2 separate regions of the Homo sapiens genome follow, and region 1 is linked to region 2. The links come from fine-mapping of genetic effects on gene expression. A gene starts in region 2. The other region holds a variant in brackets. All regions are shown on one strand. Distances are between the middles of the regions. Region 1 holds the start of LOC124905350 (a long non-coding RNA gene). Region 2 holds the start of NEU4 (neuraminidase 4).

What was found.
Region 1: its variant is fine-mapped to the expression of NEU4 in monocytes (Schmiedel 2018, PIP 0.95).

What each region holds. Positions count from the first base shown.
Region 1 is chr2:241,833,115-241,849,230 of GRCh38, reverse strand. It overlaps LOC124905350 (a long non-coding RNA gene), which reads right to left and starts at 5,064. Exons shown (of 2, transcript XR_007088410.1): 1 at 4,753-5,064; 2 at 2,751-4,666. RefSeq lists silencers at 5,920-6,214, 7,146-7,305 and enhancers at 5,845-6,542, 14,519-15,019. The variant G/A (reference allele first, on the strand shown) is at 3,155.
Region 2 is chr2:241,803,415-241,816,302 of GRCh38, reverse strand. NEU4 (neuraminidase 4) reads right to left here and starts at 7,110. Exons shown (of 4, transcript NM_001167600.3): 1 at 7,029-7,110; 2 at 1,618-1,821; 3 at 1,156-1,411; 4 at 1-252. The coding sequence starts at 1,818. It overlaps LOC124905349 (a long non-coding RNA gene), which reads left to right and starts at 5,607. Exons shown (of 2, transcript XR_007088398.1): 1 at 5,607-5,836; 2 at 6,935-7,988. It overlaps GAL3ST2 (galactose-3-O-sulfotransferase 2), which reads right to left. Exons shown (of 4, transcript NM_022134.3): 4 at 12,016-12,888. The coding sequence ends at 12,137.

The sequences.
Region 1 (16,116 bases), 31 kb before region 2:
CCATCCTGGAGCCCAGTCCTGGACCCCATGCCTGTGTCAGGGACAGGCACAGAGACCTCGCAGCTCTGGGAACTCCCGGTGAGATCCGGCAGATCAGGCCTGGCAGGGAACGCTGCCCGGGGGCTCTGCACATGATGTGGGTTTCCATCCGCAAAACCCGATAGGTCCCATGGAAAATGACCACAGGCAATGAGAAAGCCATAGAGTGCTGCCTGTGAGATCAGCGTCCAGAACTCACAGCTCTCAAACACCCACTCACAGCGCAGCGCGCCAGCGTCCAGAATTCACGGCTCTCATTCATCCATTGACAGCGCAGCGCGCCAGCATCCAGAACTCAAGGCTCTCAAACACCCATTCACAGCGCAGCGCGCCAGCATCCAGAACTCACGGCTCTCATTCATCCACTGACAGCGCAGCGCGCCAGCATCCAGAACTCAAGGCTCTCAAACACCCATTCACAGCACAGCGCGCCAGCATCCAGAACTCACGGCTCTCATTCATCCATTGACAGCGCAGCGCACCAGCATCCAGAACTCAAGGCTCTCATACACCCATTCACAGCGCAGCGCGCCAGCATCCAGAACTCAAGGCTTTCATTCATCCATTGACAGCGCAGCGCGCCAGCATCCAGAACTCACGTCTCTCATTCATCCACTGACAGCGCAGCGCGCCAGCATCCAGAACTCAAGGCTCTCAAACACCCATTCACAGCGCAGCGCGCCAGCATCCAGAACTCAAGGCTCTCATTCATCCATTGACAGCGCAGCGCGCCAGCGTCCAGAACTCACGTCTCTCATTCATCCACTGACAGCGCGGCGCGCCAGCATCCAGAACTCAAGGCTCTCAAACACCCATTCACAGCGCAGCGCGCCAGCATCCAGAACTCAAGGCTTTCATTCATCCATTGACAGCGCAGCGCGCCAGCATCCAGAACTCAAGGCTCTCAAACACCCATTCACAGCGCAGCGCGCCAGCATCCAGAACTCAAGGCTCTCAAACACCCATTCACAGCGCAGCGCGCCAGCATCCAGAACTCAAGGCTCTCATTCATCCATTGTCAGCGCAGCGCGCCAGCATCCAGAACTCAAGGCTCTCAAACACCCATTCACAGCGCAGCGCGCCAGCATCCAGAACTCAAGGCTCTCATACACCCATTCACAGCGCAGCGCGCCAGCATCCAGAACTCACGTCTCTCATTCATCCACTGACAGCGCAGCGCGCCAGCATCCAGAACTCAAGGCTCTCATTCATCCATTGACAGCGCAGCGCGCCAGCATCCAGAACTCAAGGCTCTCAAACACCCATTCACAGCGCAGCGCGCCAGCATCCAGAACTCACGGCTCTCATTCATCCATTGACAGCGCAGCGCGCTAGCATCCAGAACTCACGTCTCTCATTCATCCACTGACAGCGCAGCGCGCCAGCATCCAGAACTCAAGGCTCTCAAACACCCATTCACAGCGCAGCGCGCCAGCATCCAGAACTCACGGCTCTCATTCATCCATTGACAGCGCAGCGCACCAGCATCCAGAACTCAAGGCTCTCATACACCCATTCACAGCGCAGCGCGCCAGCATCCAGAACTCAAGGCTTTCATTCATCCATTGACAGCGCAGCGCGCCAGCGTCCAGAACTCACGTCTCTCATTCATCCACTGACAGCGCAGCACGCCAGCATCCAGAACTCAAGGCTCTCAAACACCCATTCACAGCGCAGCGCGCCAGCATCCAGAACTCAAGGCTCTCATTCATCCATTGACAGCGCAGCGCGCCAGCGTCCAGAACTCACGTCTCTCATTCATCCACTGACAGCGCAGCACGCCAGCATCCAGAACTCAAGGCTCTCAAACACCCATTCACAGCGCAGCGCGCCAGCATCCAGAACTCAAGGCTTTCATTCATCCATTGACAGCGCTGCGCACCAGCGTCCAGAACTCACGTCTCTCATTCATCCACTGACAGCGCGGCGCGCCAGCATCCAGAACTCAAGGCTCTCATTCATCCATTGTCAGCGCAGCGCGCCAGCATCCAGAACTCAAGGCTCTCAAACACCCATTCACAGCGCAGCGCGCCAGCATCCAGAACTCAAGGCTCTCATACACCCATTCACAGCGCAGCGCGCCAGCATCCAGAACTCACGTCTCTCATTCATCCACTGACAGCGCAGCGCGCCAGCATCCAGAACTCAAGGCTCTCATTCATCCATTGACAGCGCAGCGCGCCAGCATCCAGAACTCAAGGCTCTCAAACACCCATTCACAGCGCAGCGCGCCAGCATCCAGAACTCACGGCTCTCATTCATCCATTGACAGCGCAGGGCGCTAGCATCCAGAACTCACGTCTCTCATTCATCCACTGACAGCGCAGCGCGCCAGCATCCAGAACTCAAGGCTCTCAAACACCCATTCACAGCGCAGCGCGCCAGCATCCAGAACTCACGGCTCTCATTCATCCATTGACAGCGCAGCGCGCTAGCATCCAGAACTCAAGGCTCTCAAACACCCATTCACAGCGCAGCGCGCCAGCGTCCAAAATTCACGGCTCTCATACACCCATTCACCCCATTCACAGCACAGTGCGCTAGGAGACGGAGTGGCGGGCGATGTTTCATCTAGGACAGCAAGAGAGAAGATGCTCCCGGCATAAACCTAGCCAGAAACGTGGGAAAGCTGCCGCAGAGGCTGAACTCAATCAAAGGCACCCTGACCCCCGGGCCCCGAAGAGGCGCCACAGCTGCAAACATGCACGTTCTTCCGATACAATTTGTAAATTTAATACGATCCCAGTAAAAACCACAGTTCTGGAACTACCATGCTCATATGGAAAAATTAACAAGCAAGTAACAGCCAAAAAAACCATGAAAAGAAAGTGAAAGAGGACCAGCTTTATGAGCTCAGGGGAAACTTACTGTAATGAAAACAGGGTGGGATAAGCACCAGAAGACACAGGAACAGGCCCAGTCCCTGCGACCCAAATCAGTGAGGGGAAAAACGACTTTTTAACCAACTGCCCAGGGATAGGGATAGCCATCTGGAAAAGTATTAAGTTAGACTCATATGCACAAAATCCCAAATGCAGCAGAGAGAAAAGCATACAAAAAGAACCCTGGCCGCGCGTGGTGGCTCACGCCTGTGATCCCAGCACTTTGGGAGGTC[G/A]AGGCGGGTGGATCACAAGGTCAGGAGATTGAGACCATCCTGGCTAACACGGTGAAACCCTGTCTCTACTAAAAACACAAAAAATTAGCCGGGCATGGTGGCGGGCACCTGTGGTCCCAGCTACTCGGGAGGCTGAGGCAGGAGAATGGCGTGAACCCGGGAGGCGGAGCTTGCAGTGAGCCGAGATCATGCCACTGCACTCCAGCCTGGGCGACACAGCAAGACTCCGTCTCAAAAAAGAAAAAAAAAGGAACCCTACAAGAAACAAGAAACCGTGGGTGCATTCTTGCAGTGTGGGAGGGGAAGGCATTCCCAATGAATAAAGGACATCAGGCAACAATTAAAGAGAAGACTGATACACTGAACTCCATATATTGGAAAACAAAAAACTTTAGCTTGGCAAAAAAAATCATAAACAAACTGAGGGAAAATGTTTGCACCACCACAAAAGAGCGAATATGCCAGTCGTAGGAAGATCTAAGAGTCTGGAAAAAGCAAGGTCAAAAATACACGAGAAAGTGCAGGAGACATAACCCAACAGCTCAGAGAAAATGTGTGTGCGTGAGCCTGTGTGTGCACGTGTCTACACGTGTGTAGACATATGTGTGCATACAAATGTGTGTATGTACATACACAGGGGTATGTGTGTGGGTGTGTGTGTACAGGTGTGCGGACGTGTGTATCTACAATATATGTATATACGGCAGTGCCTGCGTGCATACCCATATCCCTTAAACAATGAAAGGTTGTTCAGGTTCTCTCAACAAAAATACAAGTTGAAACTACATCCACCAGGCTGACAGAGCTCTGACAACGGTGCGGCTGTTGGCGAGGCAGCAGGGAGCAGGCCTGAGGGGCTGGCGGGGAAGCCGAGCTGGAGACGCACCGGTGCTGTCTGGTAGGCGGTGGGCACTTGCCCTTTGCCCCCTCAACCCCCATCCTCGTCGAAACACTTCCCAGAGGTCACCGGCAAACATGTGCAGACGCAGAGCCCACGAGCTCACGGCGCTGGCTCGGCAACGGCAAAGCCGTCCAAAGCCGGCCGGGGGCTTGAGCCCGCCCCGGAGCCTCCATCAGCTGAGAGCTGGGGCCGCGGGAGCAGGGAGGAGGCTCAGGGCTCCCCACAGAGGGTCAGGTCACTCAAGACCATGAGGGGACACACGCGCAGGACAGAACAACTCGCTGTCCCCAACTTGCTGTCGTGTGAAAATGACACGGCAGCAGTCTGAGCATCAAACAATGCCAAATTAAAATTAAAAACCTAACTGAGGCTTGGCACGGTGGCACTTTGGGAGGCCGAGGCGGGAGGGTCGCTTGAGCCCAGGAGTTTGAGACCAGCCTGGGCAGCAAAGTGAGATCCTGTCTCTAAGGAAAAATTTTAAAATTAGCCAGGTGCGGTGGTCCCAGCTCCTCGGGAGGCTGAGGCGGGAGGATCCCTGGAGTCCCGGAGGTGGAGGCCGCAGTGAGCCACGATGGTGCCACTGACTCCAGCCTGGGCGACAGAGCAAGACCCTGTCAAAAAAAAAAAAAAAAAAAGCCTAATTGATTGACACACTTTGAGTACGTTAAAAAGAACATGAGCTCAGATCGATACTCACAAAAAGAGACAAGGCGGGCGGGGAGGGAGGAAGCGGTCGCTGTCCCCGGGCGTCCGCGGTGTGTTGGCGGCTGAGAGACCGCGGCGCAGTCAGCACTTCGCCTCCCGCCTTCCCGTCAGGCCGCCCCGCGCCGCCGCGCACTCACTTTTTCCGTCCCCGGCTGGCCCCGGGCCTGTGTCGCCGCCGGGCTGCGGCTGCGCTCCCGCCCCACCCACGCGCCCCAGGCGGGTCGGCCCGGCCTCGCACAGCAGCTGCGGCGGCTTCAGGAGCGCCCTGGGTGTGGCCGGGCCTCGGGGCTCCCCGGGGGACAGTGCCGGGAGGAGGCCGGGGCGCGTGGGACCCGGAGCGAGAGAGGCGCGGCCCCGCCCCGTGTCCCAGGCCCCTGAGCCCGGCCAGCTCCACCCACGCCCGCGCCCCCGCGCCCCCGCGCCCCCGCGCCCCCGACCCTGCAGCGCCGCCCCCACCCCTGCGCCCCACCCCAGCCCCGCCCACACCCACCGGCCGGGTCTGCGGAGTGCGTGGGCGTTGGACGCCTTACTCTGCACGGGGGACCGCGGGTCCTGTGGGCCTCGTGGATGGAGCCCGGGGTCCTTGGAATTGGGCGGGGTGGGGGGGAGTCCGCCCAGGGCTCCCAGCAGGAGCGAAGGTGAGCGGGGGGCCTCTGAAAGGGAACCCACCCTCGGGCTACAGGAGACCGGGCTGGCGATCTGGGTGCAGCGCCAAGGCCCTGGGGGCTGGTGGGGCCGCATGGGGGGCTGCGGTGTGAGTCCTGGTGGTCTCTACCCTCGTGCGTCAGGGCTCCAGTGTGGACAAACCTCGCTCTGAGTCTGGGTGAGGCTCCTGAGATTCTGGAGAGTTCAGGATGTGGAGGGTCCTCTGGAGGGTGACCGAGGCCGTGTGACCACACCATCGCCGTGGCCCCCTCGACTGTGGCACAATCGCTCCCCTTCTTGGGTGGATCTCCGCGTGTTCTCCCCATACCTCTGACCCCAGTCAGTCTGCCGCACCCACCAGTGGGGGCCCCTGTGTTTGTCCAGCCTTAGAAAACCTGGCCGGGGTGTGGCCGGAGGGGCACTGCCGGTGCCACTGGCCAGGGCTGTGAGAGCGCAGGATGCCTGCCCCGGGCACGGGGGCACCGTCGTCCCCAACTGCTTAGCCACAGAATCCAAGATTGGTTTGGGGTCTTCAGTTTTTATCTCAATTCAACCTGCAAAACCAAGTTATTACATACATGGAGGAGTATTCAGCCTTAAAAAGATGGAAGTCAGTGCACCCCATTCCCAGCAGCGCAATTCACAATCAGCGGCCATGTGGAAGCAGCAGCTCCGTGTCCACCGCCGGAGGAAGGAACGGACAGCACGGTGATTCCGCACAGAGGGAGTCACCTCAGGAAGGAAGGGCTCCCACACCCGCCGCAGCGTGGAGGAACCTCGAGGACGTCACACCGAGGGGCACAAGCCACAAAAGGACAAACACTGTGTGACTCCCCACACACGAGGTCCCCAGAGTGGGCCGGTTCATAGGCAGAAAAAGCAGACGGTGGGGCCCGGGGTCGGGGGAGCCAGCGGGAAGTGAGTGTTTAATGGGGACACTTTCTGTTTTGCAAGAGAAAAAGAGTTTCTGTTTCTGGGCTGGGAGGTCAGCCGCTGAACCGCTGAACCACAGTTGCTGGGCGGGGAAAGTGGGCCTCGACCACTGCCTGGCCTATGCAGGCTGCCCCGGAATCAGGGGCAGGGGCAGGAGCGCCGGGTGTGAGACCTCAGCCCATGGCAGCCTTCGGCCTCGCTGATGGACAGAAGGGGAAACTGAGGCCCAGGGAGGTGTAGCTGTAGTAGTGAGAGTTCTCTAGAGAAATAGAACCAATAGGCCGGGAGTGGTGGCTCATGCCTGTAATCCCAGCACTTTGGGAGGTCAGGACAAGCAGATCACTTGAGGTCAGGAGTTCGAGACCAGCCTGACCAACATGGAGAAACCCCATCTATACTAAAAATACAAAATTAGCCGTGGGTGGTGGCGCATGCCTGTAATCTCAGGTACTTGGGAGGTTGAGGCAGGAGAATTGCTTGAACCCAGGAGATGGAAGTTGCAGTGAGCCGAGATCGCGCCATTGCACTCCAGCCTAAACAACAAGAACAAAACTCCGTCTCAAAAAAAGAAAAAAAAAAAAAGAACCAATAGAATGTGGAGACAGAGAGAGAGAAACTTACTTGGAGAAATTGGCTCACATGACTACGGCAGGCAGGCAGGCTGGGGACGCAGGAGGAGCCGAAGTAGCCACTCAAATCCAAAGATGCCTGCAGGCAGGATTCCATCCTCCTTTCTCTCCTTTCTCTCCGGCCTTCATAGACTGGATGAGACTCCTGTGTCGCGGAGGCTGACCTGCTGATTCAAAGTCTACTGATCTCAGCGGTAATTTTATCTTCGAAAAATACCTTCACTGAAACTTCTGGACTGCTGTTTGACCAACATCAGAGTCCTGCGGCCTGGCCAAGCTGACACAGAATGAACCATTGCAGGCCGAAGGAGGCGGAGCAGGTGGCACGCAGGACCCCAGCTCTTCCAGGAAGTCTGGGCTTGTGGGGGGAATGGCCGGTGCGGCAGGGGGTCCCTCAGCCAAGGCGGGCCTGCAGCCGATCACGTTTTCACAAGTCCATTGGCCACGTGGATGCCCTCAAGATTATACTGATTGTCATCCACTTTCTTCCTTCTCTTTTCTTGGAATTTTTATAGCTACACTTTTTTAAAAATTAATAGGCTCTACTATCTAAAGCAGTTTGGGGTTTATGGAAAAGCTGAGTGGAAAGTAGACGGAGCCCCCATGTGCCCCTCGCCTCGCCCCTCACACACACTCTGCACCCCTATTGTTAGCGCCTTTGCCTTGGTGCTGGGTCCTTGCTGTGCGACGAATCTGCACTGACCTGGCCCCATCACGCAGGGTCCACAGCTCGAATTGGGGGCCAGTCTTGGCGTCTTGCGTTCCGGGAGTCCTGGCAAGTGCATGAGGTCAGGTATCCACCATGATGGTGTCAGGAGAGGCTTCCCTGCCCCGAAATTCCCCCGAGCTCCACTATTCACCCCTCCCTTCCCTGGCAACCACTGAGGATTCTTACTGTCTGGGTAGATTGCCTCTCCCGGAATGTTGTATAGTTGGAATCATACAGCATGCGGCCTTTTCAGATTAGCTTTGAGAACTAAAAATAAAATTCTAAGCTCCCAGTCAACTAAAAGGACGCCTGTTAGCCAAGGAGACCCCAGAGAAACCTTAACACCTGAGTTCCCAGCTAGGACGGGACAGGAGGACATATACAGCTCGTTAGAGCCCCTCCCTTTTGTGGTTTAGACACAAATGCCCAGAGTGAATGTTGAAATAGAGACCATAAGATTGGCAGGATTGGGCCAGGCGTGGTGGTTCACGCCTGTAATCCCAGCACTTTGGGAGGATGAGGTGGGTGGATCACTTGAGGTCAGGAGTTCAAGACCAGCCTGGCCAACGTGATGAAACCCCATCTTTACTAAAAATAAAAAAATTAGCTGGCCGTGGTGGCGGGCGCCTATAATCCCAGCTACTCGGGAGGCTGAGGCAGGAGAATCGCTTGAACCTGGGAGGCGGAGGTTTCAGTGAGCCGAGATCGCACCACTGCACTCCAGCCTGGGAGACAGAGTGAGACTCTGTCTCAAAAAAAAAAAAAAAATTGGCAGGGCTGAATACAGCAGTAAGATGCCAAATTATCAACAGGACCTGAGGCTGCACCAGGCAGGGTGAAGTCACACACGCTGCACTGACTTATGTCCTGCCTGCCATGAGGTTTTCTTTTTTTTTTTTTTTCTGAGGTGGAGTCTCACTCCGTTGCCCAGGCTGGAGTGCAGTGGGGCCATCCCGGCTCACTGCATCCTCCGCCTCCCAGATTCATGCCATTCTCCTGCCTCAGCCTCCTGAGTAGCTGGGATTACAGGCATGCACCACCACACCCGGCTAATTTTTGTATTTTTAGTAGACAGGGTTTCACCATGTTGGTCAGGCTGGTCTTGATCTGACCTCGTATTCTGCCAGCCTCGGCCTCCCAAAGTGCTGGGATTACAGGCATGAACCACCGTGCCCTGCTGAGGTTTTCTTTTTCTCTAGCAGCTAAACAAGCACCAGCCTCTAGGGAAGCCACATTCACACAGCTGCATCTCACCTGCCGCCAGACGCTGGCTCATGACTCGCTCCCCTCGGCCACCAGCCCTAATGACCACTTTGATTGGACAAGAGACTGATTTCTGTAACTTTTCTATGAAAAGGAATCTTGTGTGCTAAATTTTTGTCCTAAAGTAAAATGACTGGTTATTTAAGAAAGAGAGAGCACAGGACAAACCATTAAGTCGCAGCATGTTGTAAACAGTCTGTATAAGTTGTGATAAGGTTCATAAAAAAAACGTACACCTGTAATCCTAGCACTTTGAGAGGCCAAGGTAGGCAGATTACTTGAGCCCAGGAGTTCAAGACCAGCCTGGGCAACGTGGTGAAACTCTATCTCTACTAAATTACAAAAATTAGCCTGGTGTGGTTGTGCATGCTTTTAATCCCAGCTACTCGGGAGTCTGAGGCAGGAGAATGGCGTGAACCCGGGAGGCAGAGGCTGCAGTGAGCTGAGATGGCACCACTGCACTCCAGCCTGGGACACAGAGAAAGACCCTGTCTCAAAAAAAAATTTTTTTTTAAGTATGAAAGGAATTTTGTATATGTTTAAGCTGGCTATTACTAAAAGGAAATTGCTTATAGCAGTCTTTCTAAAGATTGAACTTTGATATTAAAAGTACACTAATTGGTCCAGGTGCAGTGGCTCACGCCTGTAATCCCAGCACTCAGGAGGCCTAGGCGGGCGGATCATAAGGTCAGGAGTTTGAGACCAACCTGGCCAACATGGTGAAACCCTGTCTATACTGAAAATACAAAAATTAGCTGAATGTGGTGGCGGGAACCTGTAATCCCAGCTACTCGGGAGGCTGAGGCAGAAGAATCGTTTGAACCCGGGAGGCAGAGGTTGCAGTGAGTTGAGATGGTGCCATTGTACTCCAGCCTGGGCAACAGGCTGAGACTCCATCTCAAAAAAAAAAAAAAGTACACTAATTAATATAAAACCAAAAGTTTTCGGTTAGAGAAAAGTTTTGTTAAAATAATAATTTGCTATTAATAAAATTTGATGTTTAGGTGGGCGCGGTGGCTCACACCTGTAATCTCAACATTTTGCGAGGCCGAGGCAAGTGGGTCACCTGAAGTCAGAAGTTCGAGACCAGCCCGACCAACATGGTGAAACCCTGTCTCTACTAAAAATACAAAAATTAGCCAGGCGTGGTGGTGGACACCTGTGATCCCAGCTGCTCAGGAGGCTGAGGCAGGAGAATCGCTTGAACCTGGGAGGCGGAGGTTGCAATGAGCCGAGATTGTGCCACTGCACTCCAGCCTGGTAACAAAGCAAGACTCCATCTCAAAAAAAAAAAAAATTGATGTTTAATTCTGTGTTGATCCTTGCCTTCTGTTCTTGTGCCCTTGCCAAGGTGTATCTTTTTGCTTGGTTGGGATGATAACCTTCCCTTTCAGCCTTTTTTTTCATCAGCTCCTGTAACTTTCTTTTCCAATTGTAACTACTGCTGTGGCCTGATGCTGAAATGTTGATCTTAAAGGTCTAGAAAAGCAATGTTTTCCTTCATATAACTTGATTCTGTACTCTTGGCTTTTCTTGTTATACATTGTTCAGTATAGCCAGGAAACTTCTCATGCTGTTACTAAGAGTCATGCATTGCCCTGCTCAAGGTGCTGGTTTTCTTGTTTCCTTTCCTCCATAACATCAGGTACACTCATGACCCTAGACACACTCTTCCTGCACCTGACTAAATTCAAATATCCTTTTTCATCAGGTTTGACTTGCAGGTTAGCTCAATGGGCTTCCAGAGGAGAAACAATGACTGCAGAAGGTGTTTCTTTGCCTTTTGAGTAACTGGCCTCAAAAAACGAAGATTTTGCATTTTATCAAGATAATTTCCAGTGTCATTTTTATTTGGTTTTTTGATTGCTTATGAAAACTGAGCTTGTTTTTACATCCATGTAACTTTCTGCCTTGCCATTGAAGATGGCAATGGTTACATGAGTAACTATTATTTTACAATGACCTAGGATTCTATTTTGATCAAATGTTTTGAGCCTTTTAACATCTTTCACAAAAGTCCTCAAAATCAAATCCTACATTAAGCATCTCACTTAGACTTATTGCAGGCAGGATCATCAAAGCTATAAAAATGAATCATTACGAGATTATACATATTTTTTTGAGACAGAGTCTCACTCTGTTGCCCAGGCTGGAGTGCAGTGGCACAGTCATAGCTCACCGCAGCCTCGAACTCCTGGGTTCAAGTGAACCCAAAGTGCTGGGATTATAGGAGTGAGCCTCCACACCTGGCCTGTAAAATCTTTTTGCAGCTTCCAGTTGTGTCATGAACTCCAAAATCACCACCTCCAGCCTGCTGATTACATACACTGGAAGAAACATCAGTTACAGGACTCTTTCCCCTGCACTTTGGAAGGGTCCTTAAAAGGTACTATTAACAAATCCATGTGCTACCAAGTTACAGGGAGTTGACTCCTGGGCACACATAGAGTATGAGTCTGTTTTCACACTGCTATAGAGAACTGCCCGAGACTGGGTAATTTATAAACAAAAGAGGTGACAGCCAGAGGAAGATGCAAAGGAAAGGCATCCCAGGCAGGGAGCATTGCAGCTACAAATGCCCCGAGAGCCTGTATGAGTTTGATTTCACACGCTGTAAAGACACTACCTGAGACGGGGTAATTTATCAACAAAAGAGGGTTCATTAACTCACAGTTCCCCATGGCTGGGGAAGCCTCAGGAAACTTAGAATCATGGTGGAAGGTGAAGGGGAAGCAAGGTACGTCTTAATTTAATTTTGCGTTCATCCTGTTCATCATGGCAGGGGAGAGAGAAAGAGCAAAGGGGGAAGAGCCCCTTATCGAACCATCAGATCTCGAGAGAATTCACTCAGTATCACGAGAACAGCGTGGGGGAAACAAGCTCCCATGACCCAATCAGCTCCCACCAGGTCCCTCCCTCAACACATGGGGATTACAATTCGAGATGAGATTTGGGTGGGGACACACAGCCAAACCGTATCACATCACCTAAAAAAGGCACCAACTCCTGCTGAATCTTGAACATTCCACACTGGTATCTGAAACCAAACTCAAGCTAACCAAAGCCTTGTCTTCAGATCCGGGGGAAGACAACCATCGAAGTGAACGGCTTTCATGAGACACAGGGCTGGGTTTATACTCCAAGACGTTAAGACATTTCATAGTTTTCCCTCTATCTGAATTAATATAATTTGCTCTATGTCTTAGTACTATATACTTTAGATGTTTAGCTACCTGTGAGCTTCCTTTTCCTGTTCTTATCAGAACTGAACAGCGCTTATTGCCTTTGTATTTAAAGTGTTACTGATTCTTTGTTTTGTTTTCCAAAGTCAAGAAAACCTTTTTTCTTTTAACCTATTTATAGGTGACAGAAACTGAGTAAAATAACAAAGTTCAGCTTTCTCTCTCTACCTTCTACCTCCAGAATTCAAAAACTATTCATGAGCATTCTTACTTACAGCAATATGGTGGTTTGCATAAGTTCAATAAGAATACATTTTCTTTTGTAACAGGACACTTTGGGGATATTATTTTAACAAGACCTTTGACTGAAATAACACTTTCCGATAAAGTTCCAGCAAAGCCAATTTAAAAAGAGCCTACACGGCCAGCTGCTATTCCTGCTGCAATTTACACAAATGATCAAGCCAAATAGAATAAGACTAAAACTTATTTTGTACACAAATTGGTCTTATTATTATTTCTCTGTGGTAGAAAGGGGGAACTAAAGAGATGAAAAAAATTACGTTTCAAAAGAAAACACTTGTTCTGCAATTCCAGCCCCGACCACTGTTCTTGAGTTTTATTTTTTGCCTATAATTCAAACTGAGTCTTGAATTATCTCTTGGCTACACATCTCTAAAGAGGATCCAGGTTGTAATTTTCTTCATGATCGTTTTAGTTGGCTCCCTAATGGGGTTGATTCCTTTCTTCCTGTTAGGGGCGCATAAATTCTTGTTGAGAGGCAAAGCCAGCTGGACTTCCTGGGTGGCGTGGGGACTTGCAGAAATTTTCTGTCTTACAAGAGGATTGTAAAACGCACCAATCAGAGCTCTGTAGCTAGGATTGTAAAACGCACCAGTCAGAGCTCTGTAGCTAGCAAGGGGATCGTAAAACACATCAATCAGCGCTCTGTAAAAATGCACCAATCAGCGCTCTGTAGCTAGCAAGAGGATTGTAAAATGCACCAATCAGCGCTCTGTAAAATACACCAATCTGCACTCTGTAAAATGCACCAATCAGCAGGATCCTAAAAGTAGCCAATCACAGGGAGGATTGAAAAAAGGGCACTCTGATGGGACAAAAATGGAACATGGGAGGGGACAAATAGGGAATAAAAGCTGGCCACCCCAGCCAGCAGCAACAACCTGCTCAGGTCCCCTTCCATGGTGTGGAAGCTTTGTTCTCTTGCTCTTCACAATAAACCTTGCTACTGCTCACCCTTTGGATGTGTGCCATCTTTGAGAGCTGTAACACTCACTGCAAAAGTCCGTGGCTTCATTCTTGAAGTCAGCGAGACCACGAAACCACCAAAGGAACCAACTCCAGACACATTATGCCTGTACGTTATAATTCTACCACTCAAATTATTAATGCCATTTATCTCTCAAATCTCTCTCATTCAAAGTCTCCTGGAGCTGTTGCTGAAGCTATACCATATCAAGCACCCTCTGTCTAGGCCCAGGGACTGCTGAGGAAGAGAAGGGGGCGTGAGATGGTAAGGGCTGGCTTCAAAGGATAAAACTAGTTCAGGCTGGGTGCGGTGGCTCATGCCTGTAATCCCACCACTTTGGGAGGCCAAGGCAGGCGGATCATCCAAGGTCAGGAGTTCGAGACCAGCCTGGCCGACATGGTGAAACCCGTCTCTACTAAAAATACAAAAACTAGCTTCACATGGTGGCACGCGCTTGTAATCCCAGCTACTCTGGAGGCTGACGCAGGAGAATGGCTTGAACCCGGGAGGCAGAGGTTGCAGTGAGCCGAGATCATGCCACTGCACTCCAGCCTGGGTGACAGAGTGAGACTCCATCTCAAAAAAAAAAAAAAAAAAAAAAAAAAAAAAAAAAAAAACTAGCTCAGACCCTCCAAATCAAGGACAGTGCATAGATGCCTGCACTGCTGACAAATCAAGGGACTGTGCCTCCTGGGCCATTAGGTGGTTCCCTCTCCATCCCTCCAACTCTAACCCTCTAAAGAATTTCCTGCTTCCCATAGACTTAATTACCAAGAGGATGTAATGACACCTAGTGACACAGCCTCCAGAATACAGCTGTTCCCAGTTATGGGATTTATACAAATAGAGATACAATTAAAACGGTATTGGCCGCCTTAGGACAAATTACTAAAAAGACCACAAAAAGCACAGCAGCATATCAAAGTCTCTAAATTCCTTAGCTGAAATGGTTTTAACAAAATGCTTACGTTTCGTGTAGCTAATTGCTACAAGTCAGAGACTGAGACCAAAATTATGATAGCTCAACACTTGGAACTTATAGATAAGCCAGTTTTGTCACTTCGCCTTTTGGCTTTTGGTTTTCAGCTCTTATATTACCTCCAATTCCGCCTGGCCCAGAACGTTGAGTTGGCTGTAAGTCTTTTAGCTGTAAGCCCCTTGGCAATCAGGGTTCCACTGAAGGGCTGGAGGGACCAGGGCAGGTAGCCCCACCTCCCCCAGCAACAAGGTGGGCCAAGATAAAGGTTTGGCCGTGGATGCTGCCTATGGCAAATCTCAGCCAAAAGCGGGAAATGGAGACGAAAAATAAAATTCTAAGCCACCCAACTGACTGAACCGACGGGCTCCTCACCCCTTGGTCAAGGGGACCCCAGAGAAACCTGAAAAATGGAGTTCTCAGCCCTGAGGGGACAGGAGATCAGATGCGTCCCATGACACCCCTCCCCTGTGTGGTTAGACGCAGCAACTGCCCAGCATGAGTGTTGAGATAGAGAACATCGCCTGGCAGAACCGACTGTGGCCATAAGACGCCACATTATCAACGGGACCTGAGGCCACCCCAGGCAGGGGCGAAGTCACACACGCTGCACTTATTTATGTTCTACCTGCCACGGGAGTTTTCTTTTTCTCTGACACCCAAACGCTGGCCTTGAGACGAACAACGTTAAAGCAGGTGCAGCTCACCCCCTGCCAGACACTGCCTCGCTGACCCCTGCTCCCCCAGCCAGAACCACAGCTGCCATCGGACAACAGCCGCATTTCAGTAACTGTCCCCTGAGCAGGGACCCCCAGCCCCGGACTGGTTCTGGTTTACAGAGGCTGCGCACCGAGTGCTTCCCGTCCCGGCTCCACCTTCTGACGTGCAGGGCCTGATTGTAACGCAGTTAGATGTGCAGTCTCCACCCCAAGGTGAACGTGGGTGGTATATAACATGCCCGTTTATTGTATGCAGTGTAGGACTCTCTCATAACTATTCATAAGATGTTTCTATAACCTGCTGAATATGCATATGTGTCCGGCTCATTCAGCATAAATTCCGTTCCACCCTCCCCTCTTTCAAAGTGCTTACTTTTGGTTTTCAGCTGGAGCTTCGGCTTCCACCTGTAGGTTGTCATCTCCTTCTTAAGAAATAAAACTCTAAATTTATAAAGTGCGATTTTTAAGTCCACAGCTCCTCTCACTTACTAATATGAGTTAAGTTTCCTCCGTGCTTTTGAAGGGCTCGATGGCTCATTTCATTTAGTGCTGAGTCATCTTCCATTGTCTGGATGGACCACGGGCTATTTATCCACTCACTTACGAAAGGACATCTTGGTTCCCTCCACGTTTTGGCCATTATGAATAAAGCTGCTATAAATTCATCCTACGCAAGCTTTTATGGGTACATAAGTCTCCAACTCCTTTGGATAAATACCAAGAGACACAATTTCTAGATCGTATGATAAAAGTATGTTTAGTTTTGTAAGAAACTGCCAAATTTTTTTCCAAAGTACCATTTTCCCACCAGCAATAAATGAATGAAACGTCCACGTCTCCACCAGCGCTTGGTGTTGTCAGTGTTTTGGATTTGGGCCATTCCAGTCGGTATGCAGTAGTGTTATTTAATTTGCATTTCCCTGATGACATACGGTGTTGAGCATCCTTTTTTTTAAGACACAGGGTCTGGCTGTTGCCCAGGCTGGAATGCAGTGGTGCAATCACGGCTCACTGCAGCCTTGAACTCCTT
Region 2 (12,888 bases):
GGAAGCTGCCGGCCTGCCCACCGTCCACCGCTGCCAGCTGGCACTCGCCTGAGCGCAGGTTGGGCACGAGGCCTCCACAGCGCCAGGTGCGGCCGTGGTCATCGCTGTAGAAGGCGAAGGAGTGAGGGCTGGTCCGGCAGATCTTGCCAAAACACTCTCGGCGGTCCACGCGGTAGGTGTAGGCGGGTACCAGCAGGCGGCCTGAGGGCAGCTGCACACCGTGGCCGGGACCCACAGCGAATGTGGCCCAGTCTGCAGGGAGGAGGGCAGAGGTGGGAGGGGCTGCTGGGTCCCCGAGGTCGGGGGGCTGGAGGAAGGCACAGGGGGACGGGGAAGGAGGGGCTGGTGCCTCGGGTTAGGACCATCGCACTCTGACCGCCCTTCCACACGACTCATCCCAGCCGCCCTGAGTCCTCCCAGGCTGAACAAGCCTCTCACAGCCCTTAGCAGCCGAGCCCAGGTGGACGGCACCCAGGGAGGCTGGTGAGCGCTGCCCACACAGAGAGAGCGGAGGGCAGGCGGGGGGCATGAGGCCCTGCAGTGGGGTCCCTGGGTTGGCCATGTGTCTGCTGCACTCCCTGCTGTAGCTCCCACGGGCCGGGGTCAGGTGGCCACAGAGGATGGGGTGGAGGGAAAGTTGTGGGTGAGGCCTGGCCAGGCCCTGGGCAGGGTGAGAAGGGAGTAAAGAATAAGAGGAAGGGGTGGGGCGGGGTGGCTGTTGGTTTGGGAGCTGAGAGACACCTCAGCGTCCAGCCTTCTCCTCTGCAGATAAAGAGATTAGCGGGGGGGATGAGAGAGAGTCGGGTCAGCCATAGAGGGCCTGCTCCTGCCCACTGGGTGACTGGGGGTGATCAATACCCATTTGCCTGGGACGGGAGGTGCAGGACGGTCCTGGGGAGAGGGATTTGCCTGGGACGGGAGGCGCAGAACAGTCCTGGGGAGAGGGATTTGTCTGGGACGGGAGGCTCAGGACGGTCCTGGGGAGAGGGATTTGCCTGGGACGGGAGGCGCAGAACAGTCCTGGGGAAAGGGATGGTTGGTTCCCTTGTGGCTGGAGACAGGGGTGGGGCAGAATGGCAATTTCCCGCTGGAATCTCCCTTCCATGTGGACCGTGGCCAATCAAAGGGACCCAGACCGGCACCCTGCCCGCCTACCCTGCACGGCACCACCGATGGCCTCCTCGGTGAGGTCCCGGGCGCTGCCCCACGAGAGGCCGGCGTCACGGCTGGCCACACAGCAGAGGCGCGCGGCGTTCCTTCCCGTGGCGATCTGCACGGCCTCAGGCGTGTGGCCCAGCACCGCGATGAAGAAGAGGAAGACGGTGCCCGTGCCAGCATCGTGCACAGGGCAGGGGTTCATGGACCGGTGCTCCGCCAGGGCTGCTGTCCCCAGCACGTGCAGGGCACCCCACTGCCCAGAGGAGGAAGTTCCGCTGACCAGGACGTCCAGGGACCTGGGCACAGCCCCCCGCAGGGCACCCAGGATCGCTGAGCCTGGTTTGCTCATCTCTACCTCGGGCATCTGCCTGCCGCCGCCACCCCCGCCCCATCCCGGGGTGTGCAGCCCCAGCAGATCCGGCCACTACACCCACACAGAGCCCCCGGCCACTCACTCACCCGCACGGAGCCCCCGGCCAGCGTGCCCCTCCTCAGCACCAGGCGGTGGGCGTGGGAGTCGTCAGGGCTGAGCCGCTGCTCCACAAAGGCCAGCAGGGTGGGCCCGGGGGGCACGGGGAGCAGCGAGGGCACGCGGTAGGTCAGGCCCGTCCTCTCCCGCTCGAAGAGCACTGTCCGTGAAGGGGTACGAGGGACCCCCATGCTCTGCTGGTCAGTACAGGGCCACAGGTCAGCAAGACAGGCCCAGGGAGCCCCACACTCGCTCCCGGTCTGGACTGGGGAATGCGCTCAGGAGGTGCAGACAGCTCCTGCCCACACCTGGGCCTCTTCCTGTACCCACCTTGGGGTCAGCCCTGTTTCTGACTCCCTCACCCCAGATCTGGAGCAGCCCCTCCCCCACCCTCCCTCGCACCCACTCCACCCCAAATGTCTGTGGAATCAGCCCCTTCCCCTCTCAACACGGCTCTGGGAGCTGACCCTCGGCCAGGCTGGTTGGTGCCAGGGTGCAGGGGAGGCTGGCCAGAGAGCCCCCGGGACCCTGCCAGCCATGTGCCCAGGACACAGGGTCATCCCAGAATTCGCCCAGCAGGAGGTCATGTGGACAATGAGGACCCAAAACCTCGAGCAAGGAGGAGCTCAGTGTCCCCAGAATAGAGGCCACAGCACCGTGGAAGCCACAGCAGAGACACAAAGAGGTGAGCCCACAGGGACCTGTGGGAGCCACGGGGCTCTCTGGGGACAGGGGATCGGCTCCCACTTCCTGAACGTCATCGGGGGAGTCACGGGGCTCTCTGGGGACAGGGGATCGGCTCCCACTTCCTGAACGTCATCGGGGGAGTCACGGGGCTCTCTGGGGACAGGGGATCGGCTCCCACTTCCTGAACGTCATCGGGGGAGCCACAGCCAGGGATCCTGCAGGGGACAGGTGCTTGGTGATCAGACCCCTGCCTGCAGGCAGCTGGCCCCACAGTGCCCTCATTCCAGTGCCTGGTGCTTCCCACCTGCAGGGCCCTGACCTGAGAAGCGCCCACAGGAATCAGAAGCTCCAAAGCCGAGTGGGGCCCGGCGGCCATTCTGGGAGTTTGCTCCCAGGCAACACCCACCAGGGCAGGGCCCGGGTGAGGGGGCATTTGGGGCACGCATGGGGTCTGCTTGTTGCAGGCGGGACCTGCCTGGGGGGTCTCTCAGTCTGATCGCACAAAGGCAGACGGAGCCGAGCGTGAGCACGCACAGCCCGGCACAGGGAGGTGGCACAGCTGCAGACAGTGGGAACGCTGGTCCTCCACCATGCAGGAGCGGTCAGATCCACGGCCAGCCGCCCAGGCCGGGCACACGGGGCACCTGGATGCGGGGCTAAGGGAAGGAGGGAGGAGGGAGATGGCCGGATGCCGGACACCACGCCTGGCCAGGGCAGAACGCCTGCCTACGACGGGGACCCATGCACACCCACGGGTCAGGCGGGACCCACTGACAGAGACCCGGGTAAAGGCGCAACACTCGTGTAAAACCCAAGCAGGCCTTGCCCCGACACCTGAGGCCCAAACAGACAGCTCCACCTCCAGCCACCTCTGCCCTGGGCCACCGGTTCCTGAAAGGCTCTTGGCTAGGACAGCTGGCCGGCCCCTTCCTGCCGCTCCCCCACCACCAGTGCGCGGCTTCTGAGAGCAGCTTCCGTCCCCAAGAAGCCCCTGGCTCTGCTCTCAAAGGGCAATTGTGCCCAAGCGGGAAGCAGGTGCAGACGCCATGTGTCCCTCTGGGCTGAGCAGGCACAAGCAAGACATTCTCTCTGCACTTGGCTCCCTCCCCAAGGCCCGGACCACAGGAGCAGGTGTCAGCACCCCCTGCAGACATGAGGCCCAGGCCCACCCCTGGGGACAGAGAGGGAGAGGAGGAGACTCCAGAAACCAGCTGGTCACTCCCCTTGTTGCACAGAGGGGAAACTGAGGCCCACAGAGAGGACAAGGCTGACACACACTTGGCTTGGGGCTTCCTTGCCACGGCCAGGCCCTGGGTTCCACAGAGCCTCCGTGTCCTCCATGTGGCCAGGCCCTGGGTTCCACAGAGACTCTGTGTCCTCAGGAGGTCCCTCTGTCTTGGGGGACCAGCCGTGCTCAGTGTGGCCAGGCCCTGGGTTCCACAGAGCCTCCGTGTCCTCAGTGTGACCAGTTCCCTGGGTTCCACAGAGCCTCCGTGTCCTCGGCAGGCCCCTCTGTCTCGGAGGCCAGCCCCGCTCAGTGTAGCCAGTTCAGCACATTCCAGGGGTTTGGCTTGACTGGGACAGCCATGTCCTGGACATTAACCAGTGCCCCCCGCCCTCCCTGACAGGGCCCTCCTTGGGGGTGTGGAGTCACAGAAGGGGAAACCGAGGCCCAGGGGAGATGGGACCTCCAGGAGAACCTGGCCTTCTGGTCCGTGGACCCCTGGACCGGTTGTAGGGGTCACTCTGGCTCAGCAGGGGGCCATCACAGACCACCCCCCCCACCCCCGCCAACCCCTCACAGCCCATCCTGTGTGGGTGCCCCAAGAGCCTTGAGGTCAGACCAGGCCCTCCACGCACACCCTCTGGGGTCCGCACACACCCTCTGGGGTCCACGCACACCCTCTGGGGTCCGCGCACACCCTCTGGGGTCAGCACTTCTTGTCGTGGGAAGTGTCAGGTGCAGGGTAGGAACATCTTGGCGAGGGGCATTCACATGCACCCACATAAAGTGCAGAGGCCCTTTGCACAGAATCCCGGCAGGGGGCCCTCGGCGGCTCTGACCCTCAGCCTGCACCGTGAGCGTCCTGGGCCCTGGCCAGGGCGAAGACTCCGACCACAGACCCTTCACCTGGTAGAGCGTCCCCGACCAGCCCATCTGCAGAACGACCCTGTGGGCTGGGGCCGGCCCCCTGCATTGGGCCCCTCACAACCAGTCTGTCTCCATCCCATGCCCTGAATCTGCCCCCAGGAACCCTCAGTGTCACACCCACCCTGTGGGCCAGGTAAGTGTCCCATTGGGAGATGCATGTGGGACCTCTTGCTGGAGGGGCCCTCGGAATCCCTGCAGCCCGCCCCTTGTTTGAGAGCTGAGGAGCCACCCTGGGGTTGGCAAGGAGTGGGACTCGTCCAGCACCCCCAGACAGAGGGGGCGGCCAGCTGGACAGATACCTCAGGAGCGGGTCCTGACCCCGGGCGCCCGGGTAGAGGGGTGAGGGTGCTGGGGGTGCAAAGGGCAGGGACTCACCAGCCACCTTGGGAAGGCTGCAGAGCTCATCATGGGTGGCTGCCTCGCCTGACCCAGAGCAGAGACAAGGGCCCACTGTGCGGGCAGCAGGCCAGGGAGCTGGCCACGTCTCAGGGCTACGTCAGGACCCTGGACACTCCCACGGTGGCACGGCTCCACTGAAGCCCAGAGCAGGGCCAGGGGTGCAGATGGGCACCCAGGAGCCACACAGACGCCCGGGACCAGCACAGGCTCCCCTCTGCAGGTCAAGGCACTCAACACTGGGGTGCTGAGGACACGGGGGTGCGCCCTCCAACAAGGGCTGTGCTGGGACAGGCCCAGCTGTGAGGCCGCAGTTGACCTCCCAGAGGGACACGGGTCTGCTGCTCCAGAGACGCGGCCCTGCCAGGAGGGCTCCGTGAGTGCACACTCTCCTCTGGGCTTCCCGGGTGCGGGGCCTCCCCTGGCACAGCACAGCCCCTCACAGCACAGGCCTCACTGGGCTCTAGCTCTGTATCTGTGCTCCTGGCAGGCCAGCACCCCATCGCAATGTCCTGTGCCTCTCAGGGCCCAGGGTGACCCCTCCCCAGCACAGCTGCCGTGCAGGACTCCTGCCAGTCCCATTCACGCTGGCCTGCCCCCAGCCTGTCCCCGCAGGACTCCTGCCAGTCCCATTCACGCTGGCCTGCCCCCAGCCTGTCCCCGCAGGACTCCTGCCAGTCCCTTTCACGCTGGCCTGCCCCCAGCCTGTCCCCGCAGGACTCCTGCCAGTCCCTTTCACGCTGGCCTGCCCCCAGCCTGCCATTTCAGAGGCAGCCTTGGTAACCAATGCTCAAATGACCACTGCCCAGGCCAGAATCTCAGAGGAGGCCACAGGTGCCCGGTATGTTCTGATGGGGCAGCCTCCGTGGGGGATCCCTGGGCCCTGAACACCCTCCTTTCTCACTGTCCCTCCCTCCCCTGCGAAGGGCATCCTCAGCTGCTTCTGAAACCTGGGGCGCTGTGGTGGGAAACAGGTAGGTCACGTGGTTTCCAGGCTGAGATGATAAACCTGCCGCGTCCCTCCAGGTCCTAGGGGCCTGAGGGGATTTACTGGGGGCAGCTGGGAGGGGGGCGGCGAGGAAGCAGGAGGGGTGGGCCCCAGCTCCTTCTGACTCATCTGAATGCCCCCCGTGGCCCCTCGGCCGCCAGAGCTCGTGAAGACGGTTAAGGAAAGCTTCCCCCAAGTGGCTTTCACCCCACGGGGACAGAGCCCCAGAGGTGCCTGTGGGCCCAGTGTCCTGTGCACTCACAGCCCCAGGAGGGGCGGACCCAGTCCAGGCAACTTGGCCATCGTACACATCCTCCTGCTCACAGCCGAGAATCCTGGGGCAGGGGCAGGTGGGTGGGAAGGGACAACCTCCCCACCCCTCAGAAGCCCCACCCCAGCCCAACCAGAACTGGGTGGCCCATCTCCCTTCTCGTGTCCCCCAAGTCTGGGACTGGTGGAGTCTGACCAGGGCCATCCCCTAAGTACCCAGGCTTACAGGGAAACGGGACCTCCAAGCCCCACGTCACCTTGCAAAGTCCCCTCCTGGGCCACCCTGAGACACAGGCCGGGTCTGGAGCAGGGCTGTCTGGCCAGGGTGTGCCCGCAGAGCTGGGGTGGGGGGCAGGCCTCACTCCCTCTGCTCCAGGCTTTTCAAGCCCACTGTTTTCAATCTAGAGATTTCACAGAAAAACCCGTGTTTTCAGCTTCTCTTGAAAAGTCAGATCTGCCCTCAGGTGCCACCCACTTCCCCTGGGCATCTCTGCCTGGACAAGCCACCGTCTACCCAGGGTATATGACAGCCACGGGTCCCACCAACCCCCAACTGTCACCCCATGGCCCACGGCTGCTCAGAGGTCCCTGGGCCCATCTGGGGCTCTGTCCCCGTGGGGTGAAAGCCACCCGGGGGAAGCTTTCCTTAACCGTCTTCGTGAGCTCTGGCAGCCGAGGGGCCACGCTGACCCCAGCATCACACGGAAGGCTGGGACGTGCCCCCTCCCCCAAGAGCAGTTTCGGCTACTCTGTGTCCCCCTTTTATGGGCTGCACGACGTGGCAGCATTTTAACCGCCCCTTCTCAATGCACAGCCCGGACAGGCTGTTCTCAACACTCTCTACTGCAAACTACACACAGTTTTACGTCGCCAGAAAGACCCCAAATTTCTATTCAAAAAGACCGTACCAGTTTCAGTTCCCGCCAACCTCAAAGGCAGAGACAAAAGGACGGTGTGCCCCTCCTGTAACTTCATTTCTTCGGTGACTGTGAAGCTGAGGGCAGAGTCCACGCCTGGGGACAGGGCTGCCACCGCAGCGGCCACTGCGTCCAACCCTCGCTCCTCCTCCCAGAGACGACCTGCGTTCCGCTCAGGGACAGGGCTGCCAACGCAGCGGCCACCGCACCCAACGCTCGCTCCTCCTCCCAGAGACAACCTGAGCTCTGCTCAGAAGCGGCACCTCCTCATGCTGGACTCACTCGGGCCCACATGTGCCAAGGGGGCCTGGTTTTGGGGCCGGCGGGTTCTGCCTGATGCTCAGAGGGTAACTGGATGCTGAAAACTGTGAGTCTTTCTTCAACTCAGGGGAATGTTTCCAGGGCACGCCAGGCCTCACTCACGCAGGCCTCCGCGACAACTGTTCAGCACTGACTGAGGGTGAAGTGAAATCCTGAAAGCTGAGAGCCAGCGCCCTCACACGAGGGCTGGGACGTAACAAAAGCCCATCAAGAGTTTTGCCCAGGGCTTTCTTGGGCCTTGAAGCATGACGAGACCAGGACCCGTTTAGGATTAAACAAGTTTTACTGGGGGTCTGAAAAAACTCCCCAGGCCTCCACAAACAAGTGGAGAAGGAACTCCCCAAACCTCCATGATTTAGCAGAAGACAAGATAAGGGTAAACACCTGGGCCCATTTAGATCAAGTAAATTTACTGAGTCTTCAGAGGAAGATCTTCAGGACCAGACCTCAGTTAGAGATGAGAAGAATTGAATCACGTACGTCTTTAGACGAATGCACACTGACACGGAGACACAGAGCTTAGAAGGTGTGTAAGCTCTGGAAAAACTGTAATCTGGAGTTGGTCTGGCGATCATTTCCAGGCCTTCTCCCTGTAACCAGTTACAGAAATAAAATCCCTCTTCTTCCCCAGTTCATCTGCATCTCGCTATCGGGCCTCGGGAATGAGCAACCCGACCCTGGGTTTGGTCCGGGAACGTTTTGTTCTCTGCGTGAACTGCTTTCTCATCTGTGGTCTTTTCTGTCTTCTGGGACTCCTGTTGTTGGCACGTGGGCTCCTCCCGGGCCACTTTCCCTTTACCTGGCAGGATCCTCTCCTGTGCCTTTCCTGGGCTGAGGGGGGAGGGAGGGAGGGAGGGAGGGTGGCCTGCCGAGGTCCCTGGGCTAAGAGGGGAGAGTGGCCTGCAGAGGTCCCTGGGCTGAGGGGGGAGGGAAGGTGGCCTGCAGAGGTCCCTGGGCTGAGGGGGGAGGGAGGGTGGCCTGCGGAGGTCCCTGGGCTGAGGGGGGAGGGAGGGAGGGTGGCCTGCAGAGGTCCCTGGGCTGAGGGGGGAGGGAGGGAAGGTGGCCTGCAGAGGTCCCTGGGCTGAGGGGGGAGGGAGGGTGGCCTGCGGAGGTCCCTGGGCTGAGGGGGGAGGGAGGGTGGCCTGCGGAGGTCCCTGGGCTGAGGGGGGAGGGAAGGTGGCCTGCAGAGGTCCCTGGGCTGAGGGGGGAGGGAAGGTGGCCTGCAGAGGTCCCTGGGCTGAGGGGGGAGGGAGGGTGGCCTGCGGAGGTCCCTGGGCTGAGGGGGGAGGGAGGGAGGGTGGCCTGCAGAGGTCCCTGGGCTGAGGGGGGAGGGAGGGAAGGTGGCCTGCAGAGGTCCCTGGGCTGAGGGGGGAGGGAAGGTGGCCTGCGGAGGTCCCTGGGCTGAGGGGGGAGGGAGGGTGGCCTGCGGAGGTCCCTGGGTTGAGGGGGAGGGAAGGTGGCCTGCGGAGGTCCCTGGGCTGAGGGGGGAGGGAGGGTGGCCTGCGGAGGTCCCTGGGCTGAGGGGGGAGGGAAGGTGCTCTTCCCGGGTCCCTGGCGTGAGGGGGGAGGGAAGCTGGCCTGCGGAGGTTCCTGGGCTGAGGGGGGAGGGAAGGTGGCCTGCGGAGGTCCCTGGGCTGAGGCGGGAGGGAAGGTGGCCTGCGGAGGTTCCTGGGCTGAGGGGGGAGGGAAGGTGGCCTGCGGAGGTTCCTGGGCTGAGGGGGGAGGGAGGGTGGCCTGCGGAGGTTCCTGGGCTGAGGGGGGAGGGAAGGTGGCCTGCGGAGGTCCCTGGGCTGAGGGGGGAGGGAAGGTGGCCTGCGGAGGTTCCTGGGCTGAGGGGGGAGGGAGGGTGGCCTGCGGAGGTTCCTGGGCTGAGGGGGGAGGGAGGGTGGCCTGCGGAGGTTCCTGGGCTGAGGGGGGAGGGTGGCCTGCGGAGGTTCCTGGGCTGAGGGGGGAGGGTGGCCTGCGGAGGTCCCTGGGCTGAGGGGGGAGGGAAGGTGGCCTGCGGAGGTTCCTGGGCTGAGGGGGGAGGGAAGGTGGCCTGCGGAGGTCCCTGGGCTGAGGGGGGAGGGAAGGTGGCCTGCGGAGGTCCCTGGGCTGAGGGGGGAGGGAAGGTGGCCTGCGGAGGTCCCTGGGCTGAGGGGGGAGGGAGGGTGGCCTGCGGAGGTTCCTGGGCTGAGGGGGGAGGGTGGCCTGCGGAGGTCCCTGGGCTGAGGGGGGAGGGAAGGTGGCCTGCGGAGGTTCCTGGGCTGAGGGGGGAGGGAGGGTGGCCTGCGGAGGTTCCTGGGCTGAGGGGGGAGGGTGGCCTGCGGAGGTCCCTGGGCTGAGGGGGGAGGGAAGGTGGCCTGCGGAGGTCCCTGGGCTGAGGGGGGAGGGAAGGTGGCCTGCGGAGGTTCCTGGGCTGAGGGGGGAGGGTGGCCTGCGGAGGTCCCTGGGCTGAGGGGGGAGGGAGGGTGGCCTGCAGAGGTCCCTGGGCTGAGGGGGGAGGGAGGGTGGCCTGCGGAGGTCCCTGGGCTGAGGGGGAGGGAGGGTGGCCTGCAGAGGTCCCTGGGCTGAGGGGGGAGGGAGGGTGGCCTGCGGAGGTCCCTGGGCTGAGGGGGGAGGGAAGGTGGCCTGCGGAGGTTCCCTGGGCTGAGGGGGGAGGGAAGGTGGCCTGCGGAGGTCCCTGGGCTGAGGGGGGAGGGAAGGTGGCCTGCGGAGGTTCCTGGGCTGAGGGGGGAGGGTGGCCTGCGGAGGTTCCTGGGCTGAGGGGGGAGGGTGGCCTGCGGAGGTCCCTGGGCTGAGGGGGGAGGGTGGCCTGCGGAGGTCCCTGGGCTGAGGGGGGAGGGAGGGTGGCCTGCGGAGGTCCCTGGGCTGAGGGGGGAGGGAAGGTGGCCTGCGGAGGTCCCTGGGCTGAGGGGGGAGGGAAGGTGGCCTGCGGAGGTTCCTGGGCTGAGGGGGGAGGGTGGCCTGCCTAGGTCCCTTGGGCTGAGGGGGGAGGGAGGAGGTCCCTGGGCTGAGGGGGGAGGGAAGGTGGTCTGCGGAGGTTCCTGGGCTGAGGGGGGAGGGAGGGTGGCCTGCGGAGGTTCCTGGGCTGAGGGGGGAGGGAGGGTGGCCTGCGGAGGTTCCTGGGCTGAGGGGGGAGGGAGGGTGGCCTGCGGAGGTTCCTGGGCTGAGGGGGGAGGGTGGCCTGCGGAGGTCCCTGGGCTGAGGGGGGAGGGAAGGTGGCCTGCGGAGGTTCCTGGGCTGAGGGGGGAGGGAGGGTGGCCTGCGGAGGTTCCTGGGCTGAGGGGGGAGGGTGGCCTGCGGAGGTCCCTGGGCTGAGGGGGGAGGGAGGGTGGCCTGCGGAGGTTCCTGGGCTGAGGGGGGAGGGAGGGTGGCCTGCGGAGGTTCCTGGGCTGAGGGGGGAGGGTGGCCTGCGGAGGTCCCTGGGCTGAGGGGGGAGGGAGGGTGGCCTGCGGAGGTCCCTGGGCTGAGGGGGGAGGGAGGGTGGCCTGCGGAGGTCCCTGGGCTGAGGGGGGAGGGAGGGTGGCCTGCGGAGGTCCCTGGGCTGAGGGGGGAGGGAAGGTGGCCTGCGGAGGTCCCTGGGCTGAGGGGGGAGGGAAGGTGGCCTGCGGAGGTTCCTGGGCTGAGGGGGGAGGGAAGGTGGCCTGCGGAGGTCCCTGGGCTGAGGGGGGAGGGAAGGTGGCCTGCGGAGGTCCCTGGGCTGAGGGGGGAGGGAGGGTGGCCTGCGGAGGTCCCTGGGTTGAGGGGGAGGGAAGGTGGCCTGCAGACGTCCCTGGCTGACTCTGACTCAGCAGAGCTCCTGCCATTCTTCACGGCCGACTCTCACTGAAAATTCACTCTTCCTGCAACTCCTCCAGGCTGAGCATGCTGCAGAGTAGCTGCGTTTCCTGGGTGCCCCAGGCATCGGCTGGTCCCGGCGAGTGCACCCCCTTTACCCGCTGAGCCCCTGGCAGCCAGGGATCACGTCCTGCCAGGCAGGGAGGCTCTGTCCCTCCCTGTGAATGACAAAGAGGGGTACCCACAGCTGCCCTCTGGCACCACACCCAACACGGTCTCCAAGGCAACCAAGGGTGTGTGTACCCCCAACCACTCCAGCCTCCTTTGGCAAGTGAGACTCCTCTCCTTCACGAGGCATCAGGGGCTGACCAGCAGGGGTCGTGGAGCTGAGCTCGACCTGGGCTCCGGCTAGAACCCTGGTCTTGTGAGCAGTTGTGCCATCTCTCTGTAGAAAACATCCTTCCATCAGAACCAAACCTCCTGCAGCGAAAGCTGTGGAGCTGTTCGGGAGCGGCTGAGCCCTGGCCCCTGCCCCGCTCCCGGGCCGGTCTTTGTGGCACTGCCTGTGCCTGCACCTGTCTCTGGGACCAGCACCTCGTCGCCAGGGCCGGGAAATTCAGGGGAACCACTCTGAGTTCCTCCGAGGATCCACAGCCCCAGTGCCCAGGACCCTGGGGAGTCCCGGGGCTCACAGGCACGCGCATCCTGCCGGGCAGGTGCTGCCCTGTGGTCCAGCATCCCCCACTCCCCACCCTCGTGTTCAGTTCTAAACAGAGACACAGCCTCGGAAGGGGGGCGGGTGGCTGCCGCCTGGGCTCAGGGCCTTCTCTGGGAGGGATCTGCGCGGATTGCGGGGGGTGCTCTTCACTGGGGTCTCCGCCCTCTTCATTTTAGAGCCGTGGCCGGCGGGCCTGGGTTTCCCAACGCCCCAGAAGCCCTGCAAGGATCCCCGGCCTCCCCGGTGACGGCGGAGAGAGGAGCTGGTGTCCGCAGGAGGCCTCGTCCCCGGCCCGGCCCCTCTACGCCCCCAGGAACGGGATGTTCTTGAGGGGCTTCTCCGGGAACTGCAGGGCGTACAGGCGGGCCATGTACTGGAGCTCAGGCATCACAAGCCTCTGGCACACGCCCAGCGTCTGGTTGTCCAGGCCCGGCCGGAGGTTGTAACCCAGGATGTCGGCCTTGCCGGACTGGTAGGGGCGCAGGCGCGGGTCTCTGATCTGCGTGTGGTTCTTGAGCGCGCCGCCGTCCTGCAGGCACAGGCTCGCGAGTTCGCGCCTCCGGGCGCGCAGCCGCTCCACCTCCCCGCGCAGCCGCCGCGGCCCCAGCTCGGCGCGCAGCTGCGCCCAGAGGGTGCGGTTGAAATGCTCGTACAGGCGCCAGTCCAGCGCGCACCAGCTCCGCGCGCGCTCCCGGGTCTCGGGCGACAGGCGGGCCACGGAGCGCGCGCTGCGGGAGTTGAGCCTGAAGGCCACCACGTCGTCCAGCGCCCAGCGCAGCCGGCGCCGCAGCAGCACCAGGGACTCGTCCAGGTGCTCGGCGATGAGCACCAGCCGGAAGCGCCGCTCCACCTCGGCGATGCGCGCGCGCACGTAGCCCTCCTCGCACTGCGCGTTGGGGTCGAAGCCGAAGTCGAACCACATGTTGTTCTTGGCGTAGACGTTCCTGAGGTGGCGGCTGTCGTTGTAGAACGTCCGCGGCGAGGCCAGGAACGCGTCCAGGCTCGGGGCGCCCCGGAAGGCGGGGGCGTAGGTTTTGTAGTAGATGAAGGAGG